Linked DNA regions of Homo sapiens. The protein of the gene in region 3 interacts with the protein of the main gene of each other region in a biochemical or structural test. Each region holds a gene or a part of one and is shown on either strand. Other genes may lie near its edges.

Region 1 (7,104 bases), on a different chromosome or scaffold from region 3:
CTTGCAACCAAGAGCCTTAACAGACATATGGGCACATACCTAAAACTGCTATGTGAGGGAGTTTCATAGACTCCCTGCAGTCCACTCACAGACCCCTGGCTGAAGTCCTGTGGCCCAAGGATAAAGAAAAAACTCCTAACGGAGACATTCAAAGCCCTTCACCAACTAACCCCACCTAGCTTTCCTAACCCATCCCCCTCTGTTGTCCTCCACAAACCCAACTCCTGCTAAACTGGAAAACTCTCTCTAGTTCCCAACCCCTTATCTTTCTCTCATCATTAGCTCAACCTGCGATGCCCTCTCTCCTGAAACTCTCCTAGAACCCTGAACACCCAAATCCCACCCCATGCTTTAAAGCCAAGCCCTGAGGGTGGGATAAGTAGGTAGATGGATGAATGGGTAGGTAGGTGGGTGGGTGGGTGGGTGGGTGGGTGGATGGGTGGATGGATGGATGGATGGATGGACGAGTGAATGGATGGGTGGCTAAAAAAGTAGGTAGGTGGGTGGATGGGTGGGTAAGTGAACAGATGGGTGGGTGGGCGGGTGGATGGATGGGTGTGTGGGTATATGGATGGGTGGGTGAGTGGAGAGGGGTAGATTAATTAATCCGTATGGCCCGAGCACAGGGCTGGCAGAGAGGATGGGATGAATTATGAATGTGAGTATCCCAGAAGGGCCTTCAGAAACAGAAAAGGCTTCCCTGAAGTCACCTGGCTAGTCACTGGCTAAGTGACCTAAACAACCAAGGTACGTGTCCACCTTTCATACAGAGGCACTTTCACTCCTGCGTCCGCCTTTTAGTCTCACAAAGGGCTGAGATCCTAGACTTGGGTGGCGGGGTGGGGGGAGTGGTGCCAGCAAAAGACAGGCAGAGAGAGACACAGAGACTGACAGAGACAAGGAAAGAGATCCATTAGTGAGACAGAAAGAGACCAAGACAGAGATGGAGAGAAGCACAGACCGAAAGCCAAGCAGACAGCCAGAGACAGACAGCGATGGAGACAGGCAGGCGGGGCCGGCCTACGGCAGAACCAGGCTCCCTTGGCCACCACAGCATCTGGAAGGAGGCAGCAGCCAGGGGAGCGGGCAGCCCAGTCTCTCTGCGAGTCCCTCAGGCCTTTGCTGTGCCCAATTTATTTGCACGGCCCTGAAATTTAGGAATTTCTCAGGGCTGCCAGTGAGGCGGCCAGTGTACAACCAACAGCGGGGTCTGGCCCAGTCTGTGGTATAACCGTTGGGCTCAAGAGCCTTGGAGGCCCCCAAGGCAGTCAGCCCCTGCTGCCAAAGCCAAGGGAGACAGCCAGCAGGACCAAGCTCTGGACTCCCAGAGATCAGAGCTCAAATTTGAACCTAGCCCTGCCACTAGGCTGCTGGGCACCTCGGAGCATGTGACCCTCTGAGCAGCAATGCTTTCATCTGCACAGTGGGTCTAATCACTGCAGCCTTTCTCCTCTGGGGAACCCCCCTTCACACTTCAGGCTACGTGGACTGCTGGATGGCCAATGAGAGGAGTCCCTGCCCCATCCACAGTGACAGGTCAGAGCAGTCACACGACCCAGTCACATGGCCCATGCTGATGCTCCTGGGAGGAGGCTGCCTTGCTCCAGAGCTTCTGAGCTCGAGGGTGAGCCTGGAGCTGCTGGGGCACCTGACCACCACACGGCAGAGCCTGCCTGGGAGTATGGAACACAGAGAACAGCAGAGCAAGAGATGGAGACCCGGTCCTGATGGCATCTGCAGAGGCCCTGGATACAGCCATGCCTGAAGCTACACCCTGTATTTTTTTAGTTCCATGACTTTTTTGCTGAAATTGTACTTTCTATCACCTGTAACCAAAATTATCCTGACATTTGTGAAAACAAAGAAAGAAGAACCACCTTCTTGTATTCATGGCTGACTTAACCCCAAAATGTCTGAGTTGCTGGGGTTATGTGTCCCTGCAGTAGACTAGACCCCTCCTAGGGCAGCAGGCTGCCTCGCTCAGTCCCCAGGCTCAGGGAATGGCTCCAGACATGCGCCTGGGGCCACATCAACGCATGACCTCCTGACCCTCCCCAGCCACAGCTGACTGGCCCAGGGCAGATGTTCTTCCCAGGCTGGGCTGGTCACAGCTCCTCCCTGAGCTCTTGAAGTGGAAATAAAAGAAAGCACAGACCACCTGCAGAGGAAGAAACAGCAAGTTCTGAAGGTGGGCACATTTCCTGCCATGTGGCGGGCCTCATTTCGAGAGAATCAACCAGGCTCACAGAGAAAGGCAGAGACAAAAGAAAGATGGGGCGTGAGGGAGTCCTGGTGGCTGCAACTTGACCCAGGGCTGACAGATCACTAGTCCTTCCAGGAGGATGTAGTGGGGCCCCTACGTCTCCTGAATAGCCTCAGACACAGACAAGCCTGTGCAAAGGGGCCCCTGCTTCCAGCAATGGGCAGGCCAACTTCCGAAGTCACTGTGGGGGACCAAGCCCAGGTCATAGGTGGGCTACAGTGTCATGTGCTGATGCCCAACCAGACCCTGGGAACCCCAACGTCTAGGGCCAAAGAGGGGTCACTCCTCCCATCCCATGCACAGGAAGCCATGGCCTCCCCACCACACCCTGCCTTGGGGTCACACAGGGACTGGCAGCTGGTGTTACAGTGTTTCCATCCTCAGCAGTTCATTAAACCAGTCTGTTACAGGCTGAACATCTGTGTCCTCCCTACATTTCTATGTGAAAGCCCTGACCCCAGTGGGATGGTATCAGGGGGTGGGGCCCCCCATTAGGAGGTTTAGATGAGGTTACATGGGTGGAGCCCCCATGTGTGGATTAGTGTCCTTACAGAAAGAAAGACCAGAGCTCACTAGCTCTCCCTCCCTCCCTCCCTCTCTTCCCTTCTCTCTCTCTCTCCGTCCGCCGCTTCCCACCCCCCACCTTGTGAGGACACAGCAAGAAGGCAGCCACGTGCATGCCGGGAAGAAAACTCTCACCAGGAACGAAATCTAGGGCTTAGACTTCCAGCCTCCACAACTGAGAAATAAATGTCCATCTTCAATCTCCTCCCCGACTCATCTGTGACATTTGTTATAGCAGCCGGAACCCGCCAGGACAGTCTTAGGGCACGGAGCTGGGGGCACAGAGGACATGGCCACTCCCTGAGAGCCAGACACTTGGTCTCAGAGAAGACATTCCTGCTAGAGGGCTGGGGCCTCCTCCATCAACCCCAGCCTAGCACGAAACATGCCAAGGCAGCCCCAGGAGATGTGAGGTATGTGACGCCCCTACCACAGGGGACTTCCTGGGCAGGGATAGAGATGACTGTTCCAAGGACAGCTGATTTCAGGGACAAGCACCAACGCTCGGTGATCTTGTGAGGAAATGTCCCCGCGAATCCCTCTGAACCAATCTGGCTATTGGAGACCGTCTCTAGACAGCACGGGTGTGCCTCCCACACCTCTCAGACGCTTGCCAACCATTCTTTTTAAAAACCAGGGTGCTGGGCACAGTGGCTCACGCCTGTAATCCCAGCACTTTGAGAGGCCAAGGCGGGTGGATCACAAGGTCAGGAGATCGAGACCATCCTGGCTAACACGGTGAAACTCCGTCTCTACTAAAAATACAAAAAATTAGCCAGGCATGGTGGCGGGCGCCTGTAGTCCCAGCTACTCGGGAGGCTGAGGCAGGAGAATGGTATGAACCTGGGAGGCGGAGCTTGCAGTGAGCCGAGATGGCGCCACTGCACTTCAGCCTGGGCAACATAGCGAGACTCCATCTCAAAAAATAAATAAATGAATAAAAATAAAAATAAATAAAAAAAAAACAGGGAACACTCACTCGGGCTCAAGGCTGTGGCAGGGCATACAAGGTGGCTAAGATGCTAAGCACTGTATTTTTAGTGCCATATTTATTTTTATGGGTATTGCTGGTTTAGGACAAGTGATCCTGATTTCTGTCTACAGTTGTGATCAAAGGTTTCCTTTAAAAGTAAGTATAAGCAGCCAAGCACAGTGGCTCACGCCTGTAATCCCAGCACTTTGGGAGGCCAAGACAGGTGGATCACCTGAGGTCAGGAGTTTGAGACCAGCCTGGCCAACATGGTGAAACCCCATCTCTACTAAAAATACAAAATTAACCCAGTGTGGTGGCACGCACCTGTAGTCCCAGCTACTCGGGAGGCTGAGGCAGGAAAATCACTGGAACCTGGGAGGCAGAGGTTGCAGTGAGCCGGAATCGCACCACTGCACTCCAGCCTGGGTGACAGAGTAAAATTCAGTATTTAAAAAAAAAAAAAAAAAAAAAAGTAAATATAAGCAAAACAGGGAAGGGATTTTTTAAAATAACATTAAGTTATTAAGTATGATGTCAAGGACAGGAGGTAGGAGGATGCAGCCGAAAACACGGTGGTGAAACTCATCCTCACTCTGTCAGAAAGGAAGCTGACACCCTCTGGCTTATTCCCCAAGAAAGTGCACAGGTCCCCGTAGAAGCCCTCTGCCTCTACCAGCCCCATAATCAGACAACAGCCATCAGGGCCCCTGGGATGCCCATGGGCCAAAACGGTGAAATTAATTTGTTTCCACAGCCATGCAGGGGAGCAGAGATGAGGGAGGACATTGAGATGCTCAGCCAACACCAACCACCACGAGGACTAGGGAAGTTGTCTAAGAAAACACAGTGATGAGCGAGATCTTCAGAGACAGACAAGAGACAGAGAGAAAGAGAGAACGTGTGTGTGGGCACGCGCATGCATGCTCATCAATGTTTTTTGACGATGTGTTTTCATTTTGAGGAGACTCTAAGAAGAACAGAACTTTCTGGATCATCTAAAAGCTCAACTTGGGACCAAGGTTGGGGCTGGGAATTCAGGGCCAGGATGGGGGTCCCAGGCTAAGGAGGGAAGAACTCTGGGAGGCTTATCAAGCACTGGGGTACCCCGATCACAAGCCCAAGGGCTGGCCCCAACACAGATGATGGTGTCTCCGTGGCCAGAAGACAGAAGCCACGGGAGACACAGGTGGCTGCACTCAGCCACACTCAAGAACCAGCTACGGCCAGCAGCACTGTCCGCCTCCCCAGAGTGGGCCTGGGGCTCTCCATTCATCCTTCAGCCTTCACACCAACCCTACTGGGGGCCCCTACCACCAGGCCCATTTTCCAGATTGAGAAGCTAAGGATAGGAGACAAATCCCTCATGATGCAGGCTCCGGGGGCTCAGGCCCAGGCAATGCTCAACTCCCACGGTGCTCCCCACGCGCCCAGCTGGGCCTCATCACACTTCAGAGCCCTCCTCCTGTTTCAAGGCTCTTCCTGGGCAACAATGTCAGCATAGCCAGGGGGGCGCCCCCGATTCACAGATGAGCAACCAGAAGCCCGACAAGGTGTGAGACCTGGGACTGGCAGGGTCTGCCTGAGCACATGGGTGCTCCCCTCCACATCCCTGGCCCGGCACAGGTGGGTGGCACCACTTCCTCACCAGCACACAGACCTGGGCGGGACGCACTGGCCGCCTACAATACAGCCCCTCTCAGGAAAGCCAGGCTCCCCACCCTCGAGGAAGGAAATAACCTTTCCCCAAACCAGCACTTGCTTTGCAACAATCTCCATATATGAGGGGAGAGAGAGGCATTTCTGCAACGTTTCCAAATTCCAATAACTGAAGACAATGGCACAAAATGACGCACGGCTTGACCCACGAGGGGCCCTGGGAAAGGACGTGCCCAGCTGAGGCGAGTTTGTGGTGTGGGCGTGCAGTGGTGCCCCGTACACGAGGGCAGCTCGCCAGGCAGGACCTGGAGGTGGACGGAGCTGGCTCCCGTCCCAGCTCTTCCTCCTCAGTCGCTATGTGACTGCAGGCAAGCACGCCCCACTCTGCGCCTCAGTTTCCCGGCCCTGTCACTCTCACAGGTCTCCCACCTGCCGCCTTGTCCTCTCCAGGCCCACTCCTACACCTGGGCTGCAGAGGGACCCTTCAACCTCACAGTCTGGCCGCGCCTCCTCTGCTCGGAACGCCCTGAGGCTGCCTGTTGCTCGCTCGCAGACCAGGACTGGAGGGCCTCCGTTTTCAGGGTCTAGTTGGCCTTGCCAGCCTTACTTCCCACTCTTCCTCCAAGCCCCCACTCTGAAAGAAGCCAGGCTTTCTTCTGTCCCCAGGTGCCCCTCACCCCTGTACCTTCATATCACAGTGCCTGCGCCACCTCCAGGAAGCCCTCCCTGACCACCCAGGCTCAGCTAGATGCCTCCTCAGTTCCCATGGCTTCAGCGTTCTCCTCCAGGATGGCCCCGACAAAGCATTTCAGAGCAACCCATGCAGGCACCCCTGGGGATGACCTTAAAAGGGGCCCTGTGTTCCGCTCCTCTGTACACCAGCCCCTGGCACAGCATTGGCCCACACCAGAGGCTACTGCCAGCACTGTGGGGTGATGAAGAGAATCCAAGGCCCTGGGCACACTCCCTGGCAAAGGGTTTCATAGAGCTGCTAAAGCAGGAACGCCAACTCCAGGGAGCCCCTCCCTGGCCGCCCCCACACAACACCCAGTCACAGCTCCCAGCCCTCCCGAGGTGAAGCCACAAACCCACTGCTCCCACCACCCTATAATGCCTGGCTGGAGGTACAGCCCTGTGGTCCCCTCTGCCCCTGTAGCATACAGGAGCAGCGCCTCTGTCTGGTCTATTGGGAGGGTAGACCTCTGCAGCCCCAGCATTCAGAAGGCGCCCTGGAGGCAGAGCTGCCTGCAGCCACACGGACACCTGCACCACCCACACTCGGGGACCTGGGGAAGGAAACTGGATGACAGAGGGCTGCTAAGGACCAGAAGCCATGCATGGTGTTTACGTCCACCACCGGGCAGGACAGCCGGCCTCACCCTGGCCTCCCCTTTCACTCACTCCACTTCCAATCCATCAAGAAATCCTGGCAGCCCCACCTGCAAAGTCAGTCCAAATCTGACCACTCTCACCTCCAATGCTGCCACTGCCCTAATCCAAGCCCCAACTTCTCTCACCTGGAAGCTGCATGGATCCCCACAGCTGCCCTCCAGCCTGTTCCCTGCCAGCAGCAGTGTGGGGGAAGGGACCTTTAGGATCTCAATTAGACCCCACCCCTCCCCAAACCAGAATCCACCAGCAGCTCCTC
Region 2 (7,104 bases), on a different chromosome or scaffold from region 3:
TGCGCAGAGGATGGTTCGCAGGCCTGGGAACACCCCCATGTTGGTAGAAGGAGCTTCCATGTGGCATGTGGGCTGTGTGGGTGGGGTGTAGGGACTGACAGAGTACAGGCTGGCCACAGCCAGCCAGAACCAAGCTGCTGATCTCCTGGGGAGGAGGGGGCGGTGGCAGGAAGAGCTTCCCGGGAGGCCAGACCCCAGACCGGTTCTGTGGTTGCCTGACAGGCTTCTCCTAGAACACAAGTCTCCTGTGGCAGAGGGGACAGAGCTGCCTGTGGCAGCCTCTTCAGGCTGGGTTTTTAGTGCCAAGAAAGCTGCATCTTCGAAAACCTCAGGGGTCCATTGTTGGGGCTCAGACAGAAGCCCACCGTCTTCCTTGGGCCACTGGGCCTCACTGTCTCCCTCTTTCCTTTCCAGGGTCCTACTGGAGTGACTGGTCCTAAAGGAGCCCGAGGTGCCCAAGGCCCCCCGGTGAGTGAGGCCTCTGACACCCCACCCTGCACCTCACAAAGAGGCCTGGCCCCAGAGGCTCCCATGGCGGGGGTGTTCTGGGATGCCCCCGACTGTTTTCCCAGCCCTGCGTTGGTCCCCAGCCTAAGCCCACCCACAGCCAGGTGGGAGAGAGGGCGCCTGTGGGCTGGGTGCACTGTGGTCCCGGATTCCCCAGCCCGAGGCTTGTCCCTCGTTCAGCTCCCTGAAGTGCTGACTGTGGAAACCGGAGGCAGGGAAACAGCCTGTGCCTGCTTCTATGACCAGACCCGGGGGCCCTTTCTCCCTCCCTGGATCCCCCTTGCTGCTTTGCAGTCCCTCGCCCTTTCCATACCAGGCTCTGAGACCACCCCCGCCCCCCGCCCATTTTAATCTCAAACCTCCTGAGGGCTTGAGGTTCTCAGGGGCTCTCCTCTCCCCACACAGGGAGCCACTGGATTCCCTGGAGCTGCTGGCCGCGTTGGACCCCCAGGCTCCAATGTAAGTGATGCTCCTGGCATGAGAGGCACAGGCAGGCATGGAATAGCCTGGCCCAGCACCCAACAGGGTCTGGAGAGCTCCAGGCTGGCCTTCACTCCTCTGAGTCCGTTCCTGCCCCCTGGAGGAGTAGCTAACTGATCATGGGGACCTATCCCCTGAGGGTGGCTGGGGGCAGGGTTGTGGCCCTGCTGTCAGCAATGGGTGGCTGCCCTGCTGGCTTGGTGGGCAGGACAGGGCTGCCATGATTACCTTCATCCTGGACAGATGTTTCTTGAGCATGTTCTGTGCACTTGTCTGTGTGCTTTAAAGCAAGTCCGCATGTCCTGGGTCGCTCTCAGGGAGTTTGCATGGAGGGAGCAGTGGTGATGAACTCACTGGGTTCACCAGCGCCATAGGCAGAGGGAGAGAGTGCTGGGGGCAAGCTCAGGGGTCAGAGGGGCAGGGCTGGAGCGGCTCCTGAGGAAGGGGGATTGAGGACAAAGGGAGGAGGGAGGAGAGATTCCAGGTAGATGGGAGAAAGCAAAGCAAGCAGGAGCTGGAGAAGTTGGGGCTGTCTGCCCAGAGCTGTCTCACATGGTGAGAAGGTTGCAGCGGTAGATTGGGGTTGGGGGGGTTAAGCTGCCTGCCCTTAGTGTGGGGAGGTAGAGAAGCCCCCAGAGAGGAAACTGCTGTCACTGAGGCCACAGTGACTTTGGCAGCCTGGATGAGGAAGGGTGAGATGAGTCCTCACTTCCCGCATTTTCTCCTTCTAGGGCAACCCTGGACCCCCTGGTCCCCCTGGTCCTTCTGGAAAAGATGGTCCCAAAGGTGCTCGAGGAGACAGCGGCCCCCCTGGCCGAGCTGGTGAACCCGGCCTCCAAGGTCCTGCTGGACCCCCTGGCGAGAAGGGAGAGCCTGGAGATGACGGTCCCTCTGTAAGTCCCTCACCAGGCCCATGCCAAGGTCCCTGGGAGCAGGGTCGTGAGTGGCTTCTGAGCTCACAGAGCATGGGGTAGGAGGGAGCAGGGGCCGTGGGGATGCCAGGGAGCGGGGCTGCACAGACAGAGCTGTGCTGAGAGGACAGAAGAGGCTGGGCCACTGTCAGTTCTCATCTCCTGCCTCTCCTCTCTCAGGGTGCCGAAGGTCCACCAGGTCCCCAGGGTCTGGCTGGTCAGAGAGGCATCGTCGGTCTGCCTGGGCAACGTGGTGAGAGAGGATTCCCTGGCTTGCCTGGCCCGTCGGTGAGTGTGGGGTATCCCTCCCTCCATCCAAGCTGGGCCCTGCCTGCCAAGGCTTCTACCTCCCTCAGCACCCTCAGGACTGTCCCTTGTCTGCCCTCTCCCTGAAGGGTCAGTGGGCCCTGGGCAGGGGTGCTTACCACTTGCACTCATCATCCTTGTCTCTGTCCCTCCAGGGTGAGCCCGGCAAGCAGGGTGCTCCTGGAGCATCTGGAGACAGAGGTCCTCCTGGCCCCGTGGGTCCTCCTGGCCTGACGGGTCCTGCAGGTGAACCTGGACGAGAGGTGAGCAGTGAGACCCCCTGGGGTGGCCCTGATTGGGGAGAGGGGCCCTGTGAGTCTCTGTGCTGGGTCAGCAAGGACAAGTCCCAGTCAGGGCCCTGGAGAAGGGGGTGGCAGTGTCGGCCGACAGGCCTGAAAGCCTAGGTACAATGGGAAGGTTGTCGGGGAGAGAGACGGGCATAGAGACCAAGGGCTGCTTCCGGAAGGAGGAGGGAAACTTGGTGAGGAAACTTTGGCTTCAAAGTGTGAGTGAGTTGGGCAGAAGAGGAGAGGCCTGGGCTTCTGAGAGGGGCTGGGGGAGCAGAGGGGGAGATGGGCAGGAAGCAGCTCTAAGTGCATTCTTGTTTCACTTTGTCCAGGGAAGCCCCGGTGCTGATGGCCCCCCTGGCAGAGATGGCGCTGCTGGAGTCAAGGTGAGTGTCTGGTGTCTGTGTGTGCAGTGGGTTGGGGAGGACATTGCCTCGGGCCTGACAGGTCAGCTGGGGGTGGCAGGTTGGAACAAGTCTCATCTCAGCCTAGAAGGACCTTCTGTTCCTGTCTCTTCTGGAACATTCTTCTCTGAGCCTGAGACCTCTCTCCTGACAGGGTGATCGTGGTGAGACTGGTGCTGTGGGAGCTCCTGGAGCCCCTGGGCCCCCTGGCTCCCCTGGCCCCGCTGGTCCAACTGGCAAGCAAGGAGACAGAGGAGAAGCTGTAAGTATCCTGAATTCAGTAAAAGCCGCCTTCCCCTGCGCGGTGGGGCTGAGGCAGTCCCTGGGTTTCCGCAGTCTCTGGACTAAGGAGCAGTGGCCTCAGATGCAGAGGAGGCCCCCACCTGTCCTGGCTTTTCTCTGACGCTGCGCTCACTCTCTCCTCAGGGTGCACAAGGCCCCATGGGACCCTCAGGACCAGCTGGAGCCCGGGGAATCCAGGTGAGTATCCAAGTGTCCTGCACTGAGTCCCCACCAGGGATAGGCTGGGAGGGCAGCCAGCCTCCAGGTGGTTCCTGGGCCTCCAGCCCTGTGTTTCCGGGGATTCCTCAGCTTGGGTGGGACAGGAGGGGGCTCCTGTCCTGGCCCTGACCTGACTCAATCGGTGTCTGTCTTGTTCCCAGGGTCCTCAAGGCCCCAGAGGTGACAAAGGAGAGGCTGGAGAGCCTGGCGAGAGAGGCCTGAAGGGACACCGTGGCTTCACTGGTCTGCAGGGTCTGCCCGGCCCTCCTGTGAGTGTCACTGCCTGCGTGGGACTTCCCGAGGCCTCCTGCCACACAGAGCCCACTTGAGCTCCCTGTGCTGCCAGGACAGCTTGGGATCACCCTAAGCAGTTTCTAGGATTTCCTCAGGGCTGGAGGGAGGAGGAAGTGGAAAGGGAATGGGGCTGGGACATAAAGCTGTTCCCCCAGCTCCCAGAATATAGATAGATATGTCTGTGCTGACCGTGGCCTTTTGCCTCTTCCTTCTACACAGGGTCCTTCTGGAGACCAAGGTGCTTCTGGTCCTGCTGGTCCTTCTGGCCCTAGAGTAAGTGACATGGAGTTGGAAGATGGAGGGGGCCCTTCAGAGAGTGTGGGCCTGTGTTCCCATGGGGAGGGAAATGCTGCTGCTTCTGGGGAAGCTGTGGGCTCAGGGGTCCTCACTCAGTAATGGGGGCAGGACTGGCTCATGTGCCTATGGCCAGAAAAGCGCCTGAGGCCACAATGGCTGTAAGACAAACATGAATCAGCCTCTCGCTGTCAGACAGAACAGCATTTTACAAAGAGGAGCTTAGGAGGGTAGGCAAGCCATGGAGCTATCCTGCTGGTTCTTGGCCAAATAGAGACCAACTTAGGGTTCCATGACTGAGCATGTGAAGAACTGGGGGCGGAGTGGCTGGTGCTATCAGGACAGCCACCTACCCAGCCCCAGCGACTCCCCAGCCTTCCCTGTGGTGACCACTCTTTCCTCACGACCTCTCTCTCTTGCAGGGTCCTCCTGGCCCCGTCGGTCCCTCTGGCAAAGATGGTGCTAATGGAATCCCTGGCCCCATTGGGCCTCCTGGTCCCCGTGGACGATCAGGCGAAACCGGCCCTGCTGTAAGTGTCCTGACTCCTTCCCTGCTGTCGAGGTGTCCCTACCATCCGGGAGGCTTGAGCTCTTTTTTGCTCAGGGCCTCTTTTAGGGCATCAGCCTGCAGCTAACAGTGATGGCATCCTTTATCCTGAGGTCTCCTCAGAGGTCACAGGGCCCATGATCAGTGCTGGGAAACTGAAGAGAAGGGCTAAGGAAGAAATAGACATGGTGCTGTGGTTTCCTTGGTCCTCGCCTGCTACACCTCCGCCCCACCCATGGGGCTGGGAAGAGGGACACTCTAGTACATTCTAGCAAATGGGGATGGACATGGAGGGGCACTTTCACACAATCCTGGCTGATCTCTCTGTTTCCTGCTGCAGGGTCCTCCTGGAAATCCTGGACCCCCTGGTCCTCCAGGTCCCCCTGGCCCTGGCATCGACATGTCCGCCTTTGCTGGCTTAGGCCCGAGAGAGAAGGGCCCCGACCCCCTGCAGTACATGCGGGCCGACCAGGCAGCCGGTGGCCTGAGACAGCATGACGCCGAGGTGGATGCCACACTCAAGTCCCTCAACAACCAGATTGAGAGCATCCGCAGCCCCGAGGGCTCCCGCAAGAACCCTGCTCGCACCTGCAGAGACCTGAAACTCTGCCACCCTGAGTGGAAGAGTGGTAAGCTTGGAGAACAGGATCCCCTGCCCCGGGAAGCAGGGAGTCATCCCTTAGGCCTAGCAGCAAGGGAGGAGATGCCCCCTAGTACAGGGCAGAGCTGGGCCTGGAAGTTTCCGCCAGAGGGTTCCTCTCTTATTTCACAGCAGAGAAGCTGCAGCCCTGGCCCCTGTCCTGCCATGGCTACCTGGCCGAGGTGACCTCAGGGTGGACTCCATCCACCAGCTGGGCACTGCTTCTGCTCTCTTTGCATGTGTTCTTCCTTAGGGCTGGACTTAGCTCATGCAGATCTCCCTGCCCCTGCATCCTCCCAGGTCCCCCTCCTTTCAGGCCACATGTGAACCTCATCCCTTGTCCCTGTAGGCCTCTCTGTCTCTTTCAGTCAGGCCTGGGTCTCTCAAGCTTTTGTGTCTGTGCCTGTCTGAGCCCCCATGGGTGCTGCCTCTTCCCCCTGCAGGAGACTACTGGATTGACCCCAACCAAGGCTGCACCTTGGACGCCATGAAGGTTTTCTGCAACATGGAGACTGGCGAGACTTGCGTCTACCCCAATCCAGCAAACGTTCCCAAGAAGAACTGGTGGAGCAGCAAGAGCAAGGAGAAGAAACACATCTGGTTTGGAGAAACCATCAATGGTGGCTTCCATGTGAGTACCTGGGTGCCCTAGATGATGAGCAGAGATGGCTCCTCAAACTCTTTCTTTTCTTTCTCCCTGGAAGCTTTTAGCACCTTCCCCATATTTTCCTCCAGTTTTCTGTTGGGCTTGAGAGGAGGGAAAGAGGAGGAAAAGTATTTTTTCCCCACGTGGAGGTGGGAAAAGAGGTCCTCTGAGCTTGCTCCACTCCTGGAAGCAAAAATGTCCAACTAGCTCCCTGCTGCCCCAGTACCCTTGAGGTCCTTGAACCATGAACTCTTGGCAGCCCCTACAGCCCCTGGTCCCATTGAATGCCAGCTCCCAGGCCTCACACTGCCGCTCTCTGCCCCAACAGTTCAGCTATGGAGATGACAATCTGGCTCCCAACACTGCCAACGTCCAGATGACCTTCCTACGCCTGCTGTCCACGGAAGGCTCCCAGAACATCACCTACCACTGCAAGAACAGCATTGCCTATCTGGACGAAGCAGCTGGCAACCTCAAGAAGGCCCTGCTCATCCAGGGCTCCAATGACGTGGAGATCCGGGCAGAGGGCAATAGCAGGTTCACGTACACTGCCCTGAAGGATGGCTGCACGGTGAGTGGGGCTGCCAGAGAGAAGAGCTGCCTGTGCCCAAACCGCCTGGAGCAGGGCTGAGGGTTGGCCCGCGGCAGCTGTCAGGTCCTAAAGTGACAGGATCATCAGAGGCATGAGTTTGAGGGTCATGTAGAGAAGATAGGCTGAGTGACAGGTGAGAGAGAGGCACATATCATTCCATCTTCTCCATTCCCCTGGCTCAGGGGAACAAAACCCTACCTGGAACCCAGTGACTACTGTAGAAGTGTTCTCGCAATGTGTACAGGGTGAAGAAGCGGTCACAGGTTGGGAGCTCACTGTGGGGAGTGGGGAAGGAGGGGAAGGGCAGGGTGGAGAAGGGCCCTGCCGCTAAGGATAGGAGTTGAAGTGGAGAGGCCTTTGGCAAGCCAAGAAGAGGTCTCAGGAGCCCCCTCAGTGTGGTTCAACCTTGTGGGCTCTGATGCTCGCCAGTTTGTTCAGTTTTGGGCTTCTGGGCAGCTGGAACTGGGTAGCAAGGCATCTACTGAACAGAGCCTCCTCCTTTTTTCTCCCCTAGAAACATACCGGTAAGTGGGGCAAGACTGTTATCGAGTACCGGTCACAGAAGACCTCACGCCTCCCCATCATTGACATTGCACCCATGGACATAGGAGGGCCCGAGCAGGAATTCGGTGTGGACATAGGGCCGGTCTGCTTCTTGTAAAAACCTGAACCCAGAAACAACACAATCCGTTGCA
Region 3 (7,104 bases):
TCTGAAGGGTCCATGGCCTGAGATTCCATTTCCTCCATCACATCTTGTTGGATGCCTGTGGCACCAGGCATGCCAGCATTTAAATGAACTGTTTTATTCTCCCTAAGCCTTGCCTCACTTATCATTTATGGAGGAGCAGGAGGAGGAAGAGTAGGCATCATCTTCATTGTAATTGTCTTCCTCTTCCTTTTCCTCGTCTTTCTTCTTTGCCATTGGAGTAGCAGAAGGGCCCTGACACGGGGGTTTTCTCTTATGAGCTTGGGGCTGTGGCCTAGCCACCCTCATGCTGAGTTCTTCAATCTGTGAAATGGTAAGAGTGGTGCCTGCCCTGTAATCAGGGGAGAGAATGTTGGCAAAGGCATTTTGTAAGCTGTTTAAAGACAGTACCAGTGGCAGCATTATGGTCATTGTGAAGAACGTAATCACCCCACTGACCTAGGCCCCACTCAGCCCATTCTGTCGGGTAAAAGGCACAGGAGACAGGCTGGATGGGGTGGGCTCATGTGGGTGAGGTGTGAGTTCTCTGACTTCAACCTTAGAAGGTTGGGATATCCTCCAGCAACCTGTTCTTCCACAATCTGGTAGAGACCTATCAGCCATTTATTAATCAAGGTATCCCTTCTGTCTGTATTTTGGCCTCATAGCTTCCTGGGGGTAATGTGTTTTATTTTAGTGTGCTGTCTCCAGGGTAAAATTATACAGTCTTCCCCTTTTCCCATTTTTTTTTTGTAAGATTAAAAAAAAAATCCTCCCCTACTTCTTGAAATTATCCCAAATGAGTGAACGATCTATTCGCCCATTGTTGGTGTCGGTAGAGACACCAACAATCTCCATCTCATTCTTTGGTTTGGAACCTAAGGATCCCCAAATATCATTCTAGGGGTCCTTCTCTTTTCCCTCAATCCCTCTCTTCCCTTCTGCTGCTGCATCCCTTCTGTGAATGTAGGCTGATTTTGTTCAAGGACCAGAAAATATTATTTCACTTCTAAACCTTTCTGCTAATGCTCTGCTCCGAGCTGAAATTTTTGATTGAAGCAAAACTGCAACTTCCAGCCTCCTCTCCTGGGCTGCAATTGATACTCCAAGTCCAGAACCCTGTAAATGTCACTTAGGCAAACTCTTCCTTAAGTGCACCTAAACATCGCACCCTTCCAGATAGATTCAGAAAGCACCAGCATGCAGACCTTCTTTTCCTGACTGCCACATTTTTACCAGTTGCATACCCTGAATCAAAACCCAGGCTCAGGCTTGGGAAGAAGCATCTTCCCACAGGGGCAGGTTTCTGCAGAGGGCAGACCCAGGACATTTCAGGATAGGTATTTAAATGTCTCTGTTCTGTTTTTAGCAGAATGTCCAGGAGTATATTCCATGTCTACCCTACCTATAGATCCAGTTGCCAAGGAACTGGGGCTGAGGAAGAATGGAGGAAGAAAACCTATGACCCTCCAAGTATGGTATTCTGGGCACTTTCTCCATATTAAACTATTACATCCTCATATCACCTTTGTGATAGAAGATATTGTTACCATTCTCACTTTACAGATGAGGAAACTTCCCAGACTGGTCAAATATCTTTTCAAGGTCACCCAGATAGCAAGTGGCAAGGCCATGAATTGAAGTCCAGTGCCAAAGTGGATGCTTTTTATACCACCCCACCCTGAGTCTCCCTAGAGAGGGTGGAAGTGCTACACAAGCCAACCTCCTTGCCTTCGGCCCCGCCCCGGCCCACCCCACTCACTCTCGATGCTATTGTTGTTGAGGTACAGGTGTTCCAGCCTGTTGTTGATGGCGGGCACACTGCTGATCCTGTTGTGGGACAGGTGGAGCACAAGCAGGTTGGAGATATTAAAGGAGTTCTTGGGGAGTCCCCTGTCTGTCAGCTTGTTGTAGTTAAGCCGAATGAAGGCAAGATTGGGAAAGCTCTTGAAGTATCCGTTAGGGATGGTCTCAATCTTGTTACTGTCCAGGTAGAGCTGGTGAATGGCGGTGGGGACCCTGGGCGGCATCTTTCTCAGGATGTTGTGGGCCAGGTTGAGCTGCATGAGGTTCTTGAGGCCATGGAAGGTGTCGGGCTTGAAGACGCCGTCGCTCAGCCTGTTGTGCTGGAGATCCAGGAGCAGCAGGTTCTCCAGCTTGCTGAAGACACCAGGCGGGATTCTGGAGATGTGGTTCTGGCTCAGCCTCAGCTGCTCCAGGTTCCGGGGCAGGGCCGAGGGGACCTCTTCCAACTGGTTCTTCTCCATGTAGAGGAACACCAGGCCGGGCAGTTTCTCCAGCACCCTCTGGTCTATCTTGCGGATTCGGTTGTTGTCCAGGTTAATCCATCGCAGGCCTGTGGCATTCTGGAAGGACTCCACCGGGAGCTCAGTGATGAAGTTGTTCTGGAGATAGAGGTAATGGATGCGGGGCGGGATGACAGGGACCTTTCGCAGGTTGCGGCTATCACAGTAGAGGGCAGATGGGAAATCAGGGGGGCAGTAGCATTCGCGGGGACAGTCAGGGAAGATAGATGGAGGGCCTGGAGGGAGGGGAGGAGGCAGGTCTGTTGGCTCTGCTGGTTCATCAGGCTGAGGAAAGCTGGGTGTGGGCCTGGGCCTGGGCCTGGGTCTGCGCCCGGGCCCAGTCCCGGGTCTTGGTCGTCTTGTTGGCTGGCCTTGGGCCACTGAGGCCAAGATGAGAAGTGGGAGGAGCCAGCAGAGGGGTGACCTCATGATCCAGGTGATGCACCTGCAGGGAGAAGACACATAAGGTCATTATCCTTGGGCCCTCAGTAACTAGTTGTCATGTTTTTGAAGCCAGAGTTGGGCAGAACTAGAGCTCTAGGGAAGATGGGCAGAGCTCAGGGAGCTGTGGAAGCATCTCCTTGTTTGCCTGTACCCAGCAGGTAAGGGAATAACAAGGGCTTGAGGCTCTGGATTCCCTGGCCATTGGCTTAGCCACTCGATGTGTTGAGCCTGCTCTGAAGAGGGCGGGGGACATGCTGGTAGAAAGCACATTGGTGGCCAGGTGCGGTGGCTCACACCTGTAATCCAGCACTTTGGGAGGCCAAGGTGGGCAGATCATGAGGTCAGGAGATCGAGACCATCCTGGCTAACACGGTGAAACCCTGTCTCTACTAAAAATACAAAAAATTAGCCAGGCGTGGTGGCGGGTGCCTGTAATCCCAGCTACTTGGGAGGCTGAGGCAGGAGAATGGCGTGAACCCGGGAGGCGGAGTTTGCAGTGAGCCGAGATTGCACCACTGCACTCCAGCCTGGGTGACAGAGTGAGACTCCATCTCAAAAAAAAAAAAAAAAAAAAAAAAGGCACATTGGGGCTGGTGGGACAGTGGCATACAAGCCTGTAATCCCAGCACTTTGGGAGGCCAAGGCGGGTGGATCACTTCAGGTCAGGAGTTCGAGATCAGCCTGACCAACATGGAGAAACCCCATCTCTACTAAATACAAAAAATTAGCAGGGTGTGGTGTTGGACACCTGTAATCTCAGCTACTTGGGAGGCTGAGGCAGGAGAATCGCTTGAACCCAGGAGGAGGAGGTTGCAGTGAGCCGAGATTGCACCAATGCACTCCAGCCTGGGCAACAAGAGCAAAACTCTTTCTCAAAAAAAAAAAAAGAAAGAAAGAAAGCACACTGGACTCCGAGTCAGGAGTCCTGGGGCTTGTCAGAGAAGACCCTTAACCACTCTGGCCCTCAGTCCTCCCATTCACAGCATGAGAAAATCATCAGTGTCTTCATGAGAGGGATGTTAGGATGTATGAACCTTAGCGTCCTGGTTAAATCCAGAAAGGTCCTTAAAGATCCTATAACCTAGTGGTTTTCCAACTCTGCTTTCATTTCTGTGACATACCCCTGTGGGGAGGAGACTGAGGAGATGGCCCTGGGGTACCCTCAACCCATCCCTGTGCCAACCTCAGCAGCTCTCTTTAAAAAAACCTATTATATATATTGAGGTTTAGCCGAAGCATTCATTTGTTGAGGGGCAGGGGACACGTTTCTTTGCTAAAAATGGCTTGAAATCCACCAATCAACTCCAGACCCCACCATTTGCAAAAACTGAGGACTGGAAGGAAGAAGTGGCTCGCCAAGGCCAAGATGCTGTTTAACAGCAGATCCAGTCTGCACACTCACACACACACCTCTTCAGGTCCCATGCACATAAGCAAACTCACTCACTTATCCTCTGTGTGCGTATATGAGCCCATACGCAGTACACTGAGTATTGGAAGGAAAGAAGGAAGGCGGAAGGGAAGGAAGGCAGAGACTGTCTTTCTCCACCTCCCTCTAAGGTGGTCTCTTCCAAGGCAGGCCTCTCCAAGGAGGTCTGGAAGGCCATTTTCCCTGGCCTCCTATCACAAAGGACCTTGCAGTTAGGTTTTTGGCTTGATCTCCCGTTAAGGATATAACATTGTCAGAGATACATTGCAAGGGTTAAAAAGAGAAGGCATTAATTGCAAAACTTTAAGCTTGAGTCTTGTTGGCTGAACCCCACTTCACTTGTAATTGGTGAACTATGAATTAACATTGTGTAAGTTCTGTAATTTTCTGGAAAACAGAACAGTCATCTTGCATATAAATTAAGGGGGTAGTTAAAGCATTGGTATTCTAAAACAAACATTTCTAAAAGCCTCAATTTTTGTGACCCTGATTTAAAAAAAAAAATTTATTTTCTAATCACCCAGAAGCCTAGAAATGATCTAGAAATCTTTCATACTGTGAGAAGCCCTGTCCCAAGGAGGCTCCCAGCACTGGCGGGAGTTTTTCTATATCCCTTCATTGCCTTTGTCACCGAAAGCATATGCCAGGGACTGGGCACCAATTTGCCCAGGGCTTCCAGCAAAAGCAGTGAGGCACTGTGGCTGTGACCTGTGCTGGGCGGGGCGGGGTTTCCTTGGCTCAGTGCCAGGGCAGCCCTGGTCTTCATTGTCAGGGGTGAGAGGAACAGGCAGGTTACTCACAGCTCCACCCAGCAGGCTGGCTGTGCGCGCCTTCTCATCCACAGTAAACACAGGCCTTCCTCATCCCCATGTGCAGCACCAGACCCTTTGGGAACTTATCTTTTCACTAGTCCTCTGACCCGTTTACATTCCAAACCTCTGGGCCTAGCCAAGCTGCTCCCAGAGCCAACAGGAGGTTCCCCAGGAAATGCTCCCAGGAGCAAGTTATGTGGGGAAGCTGAGCCTGCTCTCCTCCCCTTCCCTCAGCCCCAGGGCTGAATCAGAACCATTCCAAGTGCAGGGATGCTTCTCTCTTAAGGAAATAGCATTCATTTCTAAGGCTTTTCTCATGGGGTGATGCCCCTTCCTGCCGGAGCTTTGCCATGAGGCAGGATGAAAAGTTCTGACAGCTGACAGCACAGCCATTCTCTCTGGCAGTGCTCCGTGATGTCCTAGGTCTCTGAAACCAGAATCTGTGTGACAGACTGAGGGTACCTGGACTCCATGGGTAGTCATAGTCCCTCCTACAAAGCCTCAGACCCACACTCTATGCTCCTGCCTTCTAGAAACTTCTGTCCAATCATAAGATTCCTTAGGATGGGTCCATGTGTGTGTTTTTAAATTTTTCTTATGCTTTCACAAGTGCACTTCTCCACCCACAGCTTTCTACTGGGCTCTGCTCATTGCTCAATCAGTGAAGGTTTGTTGACCACCTACAACAGCCAACTGCATGCAGTTCTGCTCTCCACCATCAGTTCTGGAAAAGCTGCTGCTTCACGGAAGAGAAAGGCAATTGCTTTGCCCAACCCAACATTCACTCTCCACATTAAAGAACGTTTCCTAAGAGAATCTTAATTTTTTTTTCTTTTTTCACTTTAAACAAAAATGAGATGGGGGTCTCACTGTATTGCTCAGGCTGGTCTTGAACTCCTAAGCTCAAGCAATCCTCCCACCTCGGCCTTTCAAATTGCTGAGATTACAGGTGTGAGCCACTGCACCCAGCCTCTAAGAGAGTTTTAAATTCTAATTTCAATTCCAACTATTGTGGATCTGGGCTTGACTCCTGGCTCTGACTCTCCAACCCGGGCTCCTCATCTGTGTGAGGATCAAATGAGATCATGCATTTGAAGGCATGTTATAAAGTGCAAAATCTCTGCAAGTGGCAGAGGCTTACTTACTCATTTATTTGTTTATAAACAGCAGATTCTCTAGAGAGACTCCTTGATTTTTTTTTTTTTTTTTTTTTTTTTTTTTTGGTGATACAGGGTCTCCCTTTGTTGACCAGGCTAGAGTGCAGTAGTGCAATCACAGCTCACTGCAGCCTTAACCTCCCTGGGCTCAGGTGATCCTTCCATCTCAGCGTCCTGAGCAGCTAGTACTATAGGCATGTGCTACCACAGCTGGCTAATTTTTGTCTTTTTTGTAGAGATGGGGTTTTACCATGTTGCCCAGGCTGGTCTCCAACCCCTGAGCTCAAGTGATCTGTCCTCCTCAGTCTCCCAAAGTGCTGGGATTACAGGCATGAGCCACAGCGCCCCAAGGACTCCTTGATTTTTAAAGTGAGATAGCCCCCTTCCCTATCTCTCTCATTAATTTAATGTTAAAACCCAGGAGTGGTGGAATGTTTCTGCTCAGGGCAGGGTTGGGTGGAAGTCCTGATGGGTTGGTCAAGTCATTAGGAGCAGCTATTTAAGGCTAATTGGCTTTGTATGGAGAGGTTGAGGTTGGGCTGGGAATGAGGTTGGGTTTGTCTCCCAGGGCTAGGCAGGGCTAGCAGCAGGGTTACGCCGCACTCTGAACTGGCATTCTTCTTACTTGTCAGATCTCCTGTCTAATTGGTCACCCCTAAGCCTCCATGCCTTGACCCAGAGCTACCCTGCAGTGGAGAATGGGGCTGCTTCTGACCTAGCGCTGTGCCGGTGAATGTCGGAACACCCCTCTCTCTTTTTTCCCTTCTTTCTGTTCTCAACCTAGGTGTCTGAAAGCCATCCTGCTCTCTGTATCTCTTCCTGTAGTCCAGAAGGGTGTTGGAAGCAGGGAGAATCAAGCAGTCTTTGCCAATTTATGAGCAGAGTTAGTAGAGGAGTGAGCCTGAGGCCCTTTCAAGGCCCCCATTAGGGCTGATGTGGTCCTGAGATAACAAAGGAGCCTTATGGGGGCATGATGACTT

Evidence for each region.
Region 1: the proteins of PRELP (region 3) and FBLN2 form a complex in vitro, tested with the Homo sapiens proteins (one study listed by BioGRID).
Region 2: the proteins of PRELP (region 3) and COL2A1 form a complex in vitro, tested with the Homo sapiens proteins (one study listed by BioGRID).

The regions. Positions count from the first base shown.
Region 1 is NC_000003.12:13,552,116-13,559,219, reverse strand, and holds part of FBLN2 (fibulin-2 isoform a precursor), read right to left. Parts: intron 1-7,104. UniProt on the Homo sapiens protein: Its binding to fibronectin and some other ligands is calcium dependent. May act as an adapter that mediates the interaction between FBN1 and ELN.
Region 2 is NC_000012.12:47,973,373-47,980,476, reverse strand, and holds part of COL2A1 (collagen alpha-1(II) chain isoform 1 precursor), read left to right. Parts: intron 1-414; coding exon 415-468; intron 469-912; coding exon 913-966; intron 967-1,718; coding exon 1,719-1,880; intron 1,881-2,078; coding exon 2,079-2,186; intron 2,187-2,359; coding exon 2,360-2,467; intron 2,468-2,823; coding exon 2,824-2,877; intron 2,878-3,049; coding exon 3,050-3,157; intron 3,158-3,321; coding exon 3,322-3,375; intron 3,376-3,557; coding exon 3,558-3,665; intron 3,666-3,909; coding exon 3,910-3,963; intron 3,964-4,406; coding exon 4,407-4,514; intron 4,515-4,871; coding exon 4,872-5,160; intron 5,161-5,614; coding exon 5,615-5,802; intron 5,803-6,145; coding exon 6,146-6,388; intron 6,389-6,923; coding exon 6,924-7,070; 3' UTR 7,071-7,104. UniProt on the Homo sapiens protein: Type II collagen is specific for cartilaginous tissues. It is essential for the normal embryonic development of the skeleton, for linear growth and for the ability of cartilage to resist compressive forces.
Region 3 is NC_000001.11:203,478,792-203,485,895, reverse strand, and holds part of PRELP (prolargin precursor), read right to left. Parts: intron 2,728-7,104; 5' UTR 2,712-2,727; coding exon 1,739-2,711; intron 1-1,738. UniProt on the Homo sapiens protein: May anchor basement membranes to the underlying connective tissue.